2 separate regions of the Homo sapiens genome follow, and region 1 is linked to region 2. The links come from fine-mapping of genetic effects on gene expression. Tissue or cell type: aorta. Region 2 holds a variant in brackets; the other region holds the start of a gene. All regions are shown on one strand. Distances are between the middles of the regions.

What was found. PIP is the estimated chance that this variant, and not a neighbour inherited with it, causes the effect.
Region 1: it holds the start of PALLD, and the variant in region 2 is fine-mapped to the expression of PALLD in aorta (GTEx, PIP 0.95).

The regions. Positions count from the first base shown.
Region 1 is chr4:168,494,725-168,499,877 of GRCh38, forward strand. It overlaps PALLD (palladin, cytoskeletal associated protein), which reads left to right and starts at 2,328. Exons shown (of 22, transcript NM_001166108.2): 1 at 2,328-2,470. The region is part of intron 1 of LOC107986198 (a long non-coding RNA gene); the gene reads right to left.
Region 2 is chr4:168,829,238-168,834,390 of GRCh38, forward strand. The region is part of intron 10 of PALLD (palladin, cytoskeletal associated protein); the gene reads left to right. LOC124900809 (a long non-coding RNA gene) reads right to left here. Exons shown (of 2, transcript XR_007058361.1): 1 at 3,500-5,153; 2 at 2,289-2,479. Among named protein-coding and RNA genes, the nearest start is that of CBR4, 180 kb to the right of the region's middle. RefSeq lists an enhancer at 2,446-3,306. The variant A/AGCCCGCTGCAGC (reference allele first, on the strand shown) is at 2,864.

The sequences.
Region 1 (5,153 bases), 330 kb before region 2:
TCCATCTTTGAAGCCTCTCTCAGGACCACAAGCTGTTTTTTTTTCTTTTTTCTTCTTATGGCTTCATCACTTCACTGGTGTTATACCAGGATTTAGGAACCAAGCAATCCAAAGAAATGTGGGAGAGGCCTCGTCTGGCCAGTAGTCCAACATGATTGCCTCTGGAATTCACCATGAGACTCACAGTTCACCAGAAGGCAGAGGCAAAAATCAGAGTTGCCAATTAAAATTATTTCTAAAGATGGGTTCACTGCTTCCTATTCCCAAGCCTTTCTGAGACTCCATGGGGTGAATCACTTGCTTCTTTTCTGTATCTCCTCCTGCAGGCATTTAAGCTTTGTAATTTAGTTACATGCATACTTATATTTATCTCTTTCCAACAATTTTGTTCATTTCTGATATCTTCTATTGTCTTCCCTCCCAATTTCTGCCCTTTTCAGTTTTTACTATTATCTTGTGGTTTTAGGAAAAAGCAGATATAAATATGTGTTTAAGCAATGCTATGGTTTGAAGGTTTTTGTCCCCTTCAAAATTTTTGTTGATTCCTAATCCCCTATGCAACAGTATCAGGAGGTGTAACGTTTAGAAGGTGATTCAGGAGGACTCCTCATGAATGGGATTTGATGCCCTTAGGGCTTGATGGAGGAAGTTTGACCCCCTCTTGCCCTTCCACCTTCTGCCATGTGAGGACACAGTGCTCAAGGCATCACTGTGGAAGCAGAGACAGGAACTTCACCAGACAACAAACCTGCTGGCACCTTGATCTTAGACTTCCCAGCCTCCAGAACTATGAGAAATCAATTTCTGTTCTTTGTAAATTACCCAGTCTGTGGCATTTTGTTATAATGACACAAACTAAGACAATCAATCAGAGTTATATTTCCTTGTAAGTATAAATTTTATTTTTTTATTTTTATTTTTATTTTTTTTAAGAAGGAGTCTCGCTCTGTCACCCAGGCTGGAGTGCAGTGATGGGATCTCGGCTCACTGCAAGCTCCGCCTCCCGGGTTCACACCATTCTCCTGCCTCAGCCTCCCAAGTGGCTGGGACTACAGGCACCCGCCACCACGCCCAGCTAATTTTTTGTATTTTTAGTAGAGAGGGGGTTTCACTGTGTTAGCCAGGATGGTCTCAATCTCCTGACCTCATGATCCACCCACCTCGGCCTCCCAAAGTACTGCAATTACAGGCATAAGCCACCACGCCCAGCCGTAAGTATAAATTTTAAAATCACTTCTTAATTAATATAATAGATGAAATGACCCACAGAAGTATCCACTCACAGAAAGGACCATTTCTAAAGGACCAGTTTGGCCTATAAAGAAAATACAATAGCAGACCTTCACAAATTTTCTAACATCAGAAAAGAAAAAATATTTAGATATTAAACTGAATCAAATGTGATGGTCTTACCCAGACAAAGGAAGACTCAGCACCCCATTTCCAAGTTAACTGGGAGCTTTTGTGTTGCTCTTTTTGCCCCCCTTATATTTGATTCTGCTACCTGACCTTTAAACAGAAAAGCTTTCTCTTCTTGCTATCTATGTTTGTTATTTAAAAGATCAAAATATTAAACTCTTGCTATATCTATTTGTCATTTGAAAGATCAAAATATTAAATGATTGTGAAACATTTTTTGCAACTGTAAGAGGGTTGATACTTTTCCTGAATATTATTCATTCAACATTCATTTATTTCTTTGACAAATATTTAAGAGATGCTCATGATGTCCTAGGCATTGAGCTAAGAACTCAATGTTGCAATGTGGATAAGATCCAGTCCCTGTGTGTTCATACTTATTTAATACTATTATAGACAAGGCCTTTAATACATACCATAGTCATATATCAATTTTTAATTAGCAATATGAAATAAGAGAACAATGGGACTTTCCACTCAATTTGACAGGTGGCTAAATTTTCAGTTACTGAATTTACTATTTTAGGGTAATCTAGCACATGACCAAAATTTAAATGCACAGAACAGAAGATCAGAGTAAGAAGAGCTTCCATTTGGATTATCACTTTTTCTACTTGGAGTCACATACTGTACTTTAAATTGATTAAGAACATGTTAAAGGTCCAGGTGGTGATTTCCAGCTACAAGTCCAAAGTATAGAAGAATGTGTTTAAATCCTACGTTTATCAGATCCATAAATATAGTTCCTTCTATGTTAAGTGGCTTTATTTCTAAGAACCCAGCCCTCGGTCCTGGGGGTGCTTCCCAGCCCGCTGCTGGAATTCCTGATCGTGGCAGTCTGCTGAAACATGAGCTCAGTTACCAAATATAGCTGAGTGGAGTAAGAGGACAGATGAGAGTCTGAGGCCACAGTTGCCTCAAAGTGACCACGGACCAGGCAGTCTCTAATGAATAGGCAAGGCCACAACCTCCATTCTCCCAGAAAAGAAGAAATGCTCATCTGAAATTCATCACCTCTCTGGAGTCTTCAAACTGACCAAGCATTGAAAAGGTCTGTAAGGTGTATCTTAATATACTAACTAGTAGGGCAACATTTTAAGGACTTAAAAAAAAAAAAACTAAAAATACAAAAGTTTTTCTGAAGATATGATACTATTTACAAGATACCTTAATTATTCTTTTGCTTGGAGAGGAAACGTAATGAGAATGTTACGGTTTTGCCAAAAACAGATAATACGTAAGATTTGCCTGCCCACTTCATCTCTGCCTTTGCTGTCAGAGAATTACACTTTCTGTTATAAGCTTAAGCATGCTAAGATGGTGCTATCAATTCCAAAAGGATTAAATGTATTTATGGAGCCAGCTTTTGTCAAGATCGTGTATGTGTTATGTTTCACAGAAAAGGAAAACGCAGCTTTCTAGACCCTCACCCATATTTAAGCTAGATAAGTGATGATGGCTTAAAGTGATAGACCTTAGATTTCAGTAACATTATAAATTGTTAATTACACTTTCAAAAGATTCTAAAAGTAACTCACTGGACATAATTAAATGAGTTGGGATAGTAACAGCAGGTATTTTAAATTATATTCATGCATAAAATTTACATACATATTTTTAATAAGATAACGCTTACTAAGGGAAACCACAGTGCAATCTCGAGTCCAGTCAAGTTTAAACATCACAGAATAATTTTTATCATGTTGTTTTAAGTTGCACATGAAATTGTCTTGAATCCAATATAGGAGGTTGACATAAAATGATTTCAGGCTCATATTACTTATTAACATTTGCTAAAAATACTAATTGCCTTCTAGTATGAATAATGTGGTGACATATAAAGCCATTTCTTGGCAATATAAAACTATTACAAATCTATTCAATCACATATATGCAGAAATTAAATCCTCATTTCATGATAAATGTGCCTTCCAATGTTTTTTCTCACAGAAAGAACTTGAATACTCACCTCAATTATTCAGATTTTTTTTTCAGATTTTTAAAATCAAAGTCTCTTTGACAAGTTATTGCTAACAGCAGAAAAGGCCGATGAGGTTTATCTGGCCACTAACTGCCCTGTAAATACATGATTACACATTCCTAGAATATAAATTAGTCCTCTGGCATCCTAGAATCTGGTATGGATTAGGGTCTGTATCCCAGGGGTTCTGTGTCAGCTCTTCCTCTGGGTTTCTCTGTTATTGCTAGAGCTGAATATTAAAACTGGCCTTATAGCATATTTCACAATAGAATGAGGATCTGGATTGCACTGGACAAGTACAATCACTTTGACCTCCTTACCTCATTTTTTAAAAATGTAGAGGGCAATCATTATTCAGGTTTAAAAATAAATATGACAAGTTCTTTAAGAGATACCAAGTGGAATCTGCAAGGCCCAGACAAGAGCTCCACTTCTTAAACAATATGTGTGTGGAGGCTGTCAAAGGGTATTGCAATTACTGAGCTCCAGTTAGAAATTCAGGCCATCTAGAGTTAATGACTGTGTCCCGGTGAAATTACAGCAAAGAAAACAAAGATTGAACAAAGTATCTTCGACTAAAATTTCTAACTGTTAAATCATATTAGAGAATATAGAAGCAAATTTGGTAAATAGGTTTTGAATTTAAGTGAGAAGAATAAAGCCCTGAATTGGATAATGGTAATGGAAATGGATAATTCAGAAGTAAAATCTAAATATTTGCAATGGACTCAGTATGGTGAATAAAGTTGATAAGATGAACAGGACATGGGATAACTTCAAAAACTCTGTAAAGTATCTTATTTGGCTGTTTCTGCATTAAATGAGCTATTAGATTATGTCCTTGAAATTGAGATTAAATAAGCTGTTTAAAGAGATATTTAAAACTGTAGGATAAATATATCTGCCTGCATTGACAATTTAATAATTAGAAAGGAAAATAATCCATGTGTATTTATTAAGAAATAAATTATAAAATTGTAGTGCATTTTCTGCATCAAACATAAAATTTCATAAAATTTTCGTGTTTGACTTTTGCCCTAAAGGACCCTTTGTAGCAAAAAAAAAAAAAAAAAAAAAAAAAAGGAAGGAAGAAAGAAAGGGAGACGGGGAAGAAGGAAGGGAGAAGGGAGGGAGGAAGGGAGGGAGGATGGGAGGGAGGATGGGAGGGAGGATGGGAGGGAGGAAGGGAGGGAGACATGGAAGAAGGGGGAAGGGAGGCAGAAGGGAGGGAGGGGGGAGGGAGGAAGGGAGGGACTTTATTGATTTAGTCTAGGGGGGTTGCCTGTGATTCTGAAGCATGAAAATTAAGTGTTAAAGCTTTTCTAACTTTGGTTTTCATAGTTTAGGTTTTATTAAAAGATATTTCAATATCTAATATTTGTATCAATGGTTTGCATTACTTTTTTAGTAATTGCTTAAATATGAAAATAAAACTGCTAAACCTAAAATTAAAAATCACTTATAACTTTTTTTCAAAAATTACAAAATAAGCAACAAAAGATCCCCCTGCATGTCCCACCTTTCAACTCCTACCCCTGCCTAAATCCCCCCACAGAGGTCAGTGTTGATTGTTTGGTGTATGTTATTCCAACCATTTTCATATATTTATTCCTATCTATGTATACATTTTTAAATGACTATGGGAATTTAGCTATTCCACCTGGACTCTCTAAAGAATCTGCTGAATGTGGTACATGGTATTAAGTGATCCTTACTGCCTGTCAATGTTTTTCTAACATCAAACTTTTTCTTT
Region 2 (5,153 bases):
ACTGGTCCACGTGTACGCATCTTTCCGGGCACCTGTAGTTGGAATAAGGCAGACACACAGAGATGACAGATCTAATGGATCATCCTTCTTTTGCTGTCTCCTCAGAGTAAAGGAAGTGCGTATGTCTTCTCACAGCCAATCAACTCTCCAAGTCTATTCTACCCCACAGTCCCTTCCATGGCCGGTAAACACTACAGGTGGTAATATCAGACATCTGTTTTATTCTTTCTGCTCTTTATGTTGTGAAAGGACTCCTAAATCATAAAATCATAAAATTTAAGAAGCGTAACTTAAAAATCCATCAGATTAATCCCATTATTGTGGAAATAAGGAAGCTTCAGAGTCCCACAGTTAATGGCACAGATCACACGTCCTAACTCTCATCTGGTGGCACTCTTTAGTCAGTGTCCCATCACAGCCTGCAAGAAAACCCTGCTGCAGGCCACGTGATGTCATTGCTGCAGCCCTAAGGGCCCTTTGACATGGGCGTAAACAAGCTGAGAATTCAAAGAAAGGTGAAGCTAAACAGGGAAATACTGTTAGAAATATTAGAATAGGCAAAGTGATTTTCACTCTTTAAAGTTTGTGTTCCAGGACAATGAATTGTTGGTCTATCACCCTCTCAAAAATGCAAGAGATGATAATGCTTTGTATTATCCCCAGAAAGATGACTATGGTCAGTATATTATTAGGTTAAAAAAAATAGGTTACAGGCCAGGTGCAGTGGGTCATGCCTATAATCCCAGCACTTTGGGAGGCCAAGGCAGGCGGATCACTTGAGGTCAGGAGTTCAAGAGCAGCTTGGCCAACATGGTGAAACCCCATCTCTACAAAAACTACAAAAATTAGCTGGGTGTGGTGGCAGGCGCCTGTTATCCCAGCTACTTGGGAGGCTGAGGCAGGAGAATCGCTTGAACCCAGGAGGTGGAGGTTGCAGTGAGCCGAGATCACGCCACTGCACTCCAGCTTGGGTGACAGAGTGAGACTTTGTCTCAAAAAAAAAAAAAAAAAAAAAAGTTATAGGCTGAGTGCGGTGGTCACGCCTGGGAGGCCGAGGTGGGAGGATCACTTGAGATCAGGAGTTTGAGACCAGCCTGGACAACATAGCGAGACGTTGTCTTGAACAAAAAAAAATGTTTTAAATTAGCTGGGTATGATGGCACGTGCCTGTAGCCCTAGTTACTCAGGAGGCTGAGGTGGGAGGATCACTTGAGCCTGGGAGGTCAAAACTGCAGTAAGCCATGACTGCACCACTGCACTTCAGCCTGGGCAACAGAGTGAGACCCTGTCTCAAAAAAAAAAAAGTTACAAAATTGTATGGAAACAATTATCTAAGCTATTTTAAGTGTGTGTTTAAATACACATCCAAAAGCCTGGAGGACTATATTTTAGGCAGCTAACAATTTATCTCTGGGAGTAAAATCACAGGGACATTCAATTTTGGTTTATTGTTTAAAGAACAATATTTGGTTTTTAATATTTTACAGACATCGTTATTCATTTAAAAGTCAATAAAGATATTTCCGAGAGAGGAATAGACTACCTGGCTGAAGACAGTGAACCTAGCAATGCTAGTGTTAGATATCAGTAATGACGGCAGGATACAGTTACAGTACTAAACCCTTTAAACAAGTGGTCTACTGGCTATTCAAAACTAGTTAGCATTTATTGGCAGTTACTGAGTGACCACGTTACCGAAACAGCCTGGCACAACAGTAAGTTCAGTAAATGGTAGATATTACCATTCATTCATTCATTCATTCATGCATTCATTTTGTTAACAGCTTATTGTGTGTGAAAGATTTGGTCCCAGTGGCCAAGGAGCACACTCTGGAAGGAGAAAGAAGACAGAAATTGTTGTGACATGGTGTGCCAACCCAGCTACTGGAGGATTATACACAGAGCCAGGGGTGTCCTTAGCTGATCTGGTGAAAGAAAAGTTGGTGATCTGGATTTAGGGCTAAGCCCACAATCTGTCACAAATTTTGCATAGAATATTAATTCTGGAACGAATGAGTCCAGTTCCTCTTTGAAAACACTTCTACAGAAGTTCCTGTGTAGATGAGCGTTAAAATAAGTGACTCAGGGCCTCCAGTAGTTTATGAGCTAAGAGGATCACAGGATAGGATAGGGACCGGGTTCCTCAGATGTTGCTAGATCAAATGCTTTACTCTTCTCACCCTAAGGGCTCCTGAATTTAGCTTTTTATTACACAGAACCCAGTAAACTAATTAATGGAAATCTAAAAATTATCCTTCCTCTTCTTAGAAAAGAAATATACTGCATGATGATTTGTGCTTTTCGATTTAATGTCACACAATCGTTTTTACACTGTATGTGCTTTCCCTCCCCACAGCCCCAGTCCCAGCCCCAGTCTCGCAGTTCCATTCCTTCAGGGCAGCTTCCATTCTACCGTGAGTTTTTATTGCTTTCCCCTAAAACGCTGCCCTGGAGTCGCGTTTATTGGACACTCTTTAGTCTGTAAAGGAAAAAAACACAAACACCGGAGGAGAATCATCCTAACAAGCCGACAACATATCTATGGGCCTAAAAAACTTAAATTCTTTCCCGTTATTAGCACTTCTCGATCGTTCCAGGAAAGCCCGATTTGTAGCTTGGCTGCCCCAGGAAGGGGCCTGCGACCAGAAAGATGCAAAGGGCGGGACAAGGTTACGAGTGGGTGCGGGGAAGCCTCCCTAACCTGGGGGCCGCGTCCCAGAGCTGCGAGCCACGCCTCCTCTCTCCCGCCCGCCGCGCCGCCGGACTCTTATTTTGAAGGGCGGCGGGTGAAGGCTCGGAGCCTCCTGAGTCACCCGGCGGGCGAGGTATAAAGCCCGATACCTGCCCCGCGCCCGGTCCGCGG[A/AGCCCGCTGCAGC]GCCCGCTGCAGCTCCCGCTCGCTCCGGACGCGGAATCGGGCAGCAGCGGGAGGCGGCCCGGAGAGCCGAGGTAGGCGCGGGGAATCGGCCCTGAGGCTGGTGGAAGAAATGTGTGAATTAAAGGGAGTGCAGCGTGCAGGGTGGGCCGCGAGTCGGGAGTGCAGGGCTCGGGACAGGGTGGGGGCGGGGAGGACAAGAGACTCGTCAGCGCACTTTCCACCCGGCCGGTTCCTTCCCGAGCCCTCTCCCTCCCCCGGCCCGCGGGAGCACAGATCCCTGAAAGCGGAGCTCCAGATAGGAATGTCTGCATCATCTTGGCAGGGCCCAGACGGGAGAAGATGCTCTGCTGCCACGGACGATCCCTCCCGCTCTCCTAACTCTTCTCTGAACACCTCGCACCCCCACGGCCCCCCGCCCCTCTCTTAATCTTGGCCACGCTCCCTGAGGGGTCAGACCTGGGGTGGGAGAGCAGAGAAAGCGGGGCTGGCAGAGACAGGGGTGAGGGCCGGGAGAGGCGATGACATCATTCCCTGGCAGCTGGCGGGGAGAGGGTGGGGACGGAGGGGTCCCCCCGACCTGAGCCGAGCCCTCCCTTCCCAAGCCCATCCTCCTTTCTTTGGGATGGTTCACCCCACCTGGGCGCCATTCAAAGGAAGTTTGCGCGTAACTCGGGGCGTCCTTTCCCCGGCCGGGTGCTGTGCCCGGCCCGCAGTCGGTGTTTCTTCTGGGCCTGGGGGCGGCGTGGAGCCGGCGGCTCAGTCCCCTCAGTCCCAGGCCTTGGCAGCCGCTTTGTTCACGCCGGGCGCGGGCCGAACCCGAACCTCAGCTGCAGCACTGGCAGCGCGCACCGGCCACGCGTGGGTTCCCGGCCACGGCCGGGCCAACAAGGGAGGGTCCCGTGAGCAGCCAGGCTGGCCCTCCCCGGGCCTGGGTGAGCTCCCAAAGCTGGAGCGCAGGGCTCTAGGCCGGCCCCGCCCCGGGGCTGGGGGCTTCCCGCCCGTTTGTCTCATTTTAACTTTTGGGGGCAGCTCTGTCCCGAATGGTGAGTGGTCCAGACTCTAGAAAGGGGTTTGGTCGCTTGAGCCCGGATTGAGGCTTGGGACCTTTGCTCTCTTGCTGGGGACGGAAGGGGGCGCGCTGGGCAGGAGAGGGGGCGTCTCGGTCGGGTCTCCCTGGGCTCGGGCATCTTCCCACCCTGCGGAGCCGGGTCTTGCGCTGCGTGCCCCGAACAGGCCCGGGCACACCGAGTCCCGTTACTGGTCTTCAGGCGAAATTCCAGGACGGGTGTGCATTCATCAACCTGGGAGTCTCTAGGAGCCAGAGATGACTGGCTCTACATTTTAATGCGTAATCACAGAGAAACTAGCACGAGAAAAGGACAGAGGGACCGACCCAAGCTTCAGAGACATGGAATAATATGATCCTGGTTCATAAGCCTTGAAAAGCTCCCCTCCGCCAGGTTAAGGAATGGTGTCACCAGCCTTGGCTGTGAGGATAATTTCTTGATTTGTGTTATGCAGGCTCCTGTCAGGACTGTCTCCTTAACTCCCACTACCTAAGGAAAAGATAGCCAGAGAATTGTCCAGGGATTTGGGTTTGGGTTGCTTCTAGAAAGACAGCATCTTTCTTGCTATTTTTTTTTTCACATCCCCCCAAAACAATTTTTTTCCCCCTTCAGACTTGGCAGACTTTGATTTAGATAAGAGGTTTGAGTTAATTTGATTTTCCCCATGTCTGTTTAGATCAATGGATATAGGAGATAGTTTGAAGCTAATGTACCCCTATGCCTTTGTGTGAGTGTAAGATTTATAACTTGAGGGAGGCAGTTAATAAATAGCACATCCTTGAACCATAAACATACGAGATAGACAAGAGCTAGATAATAAACAGTTTTTCCCCCAATCCCTAAGCTTTACTTATTTTTTTTACTGATTCTTGTACTTTGTCATTAGAAAAAGGAGTGGGGTTGGTTTCCCAGTGACCGCATTCATTAAGAAACTGGGCATGTACAGCAAGTAGCAAAATATGCCAACATCCACACCATCTCTGGCTATGTGAAAACTTGGTGCCCTGTGTGAGGAGCATGGGGGATGGTTGGAAATAATGCAGCTTTATTTTTATTGTGATTGTTGGAATTCATGAATCATAAAATTCTGATAGCTGGGATGGTGTGGTAGCTCACCTGCTTTAAATAATGTAATAACGACAGGCCCAGTCTGTCCCAGGTGAGGACCACTGACTTAGTAAACAATAAACAGGTGTCCTACTCATAGTAGCCTTAGTGTTGCT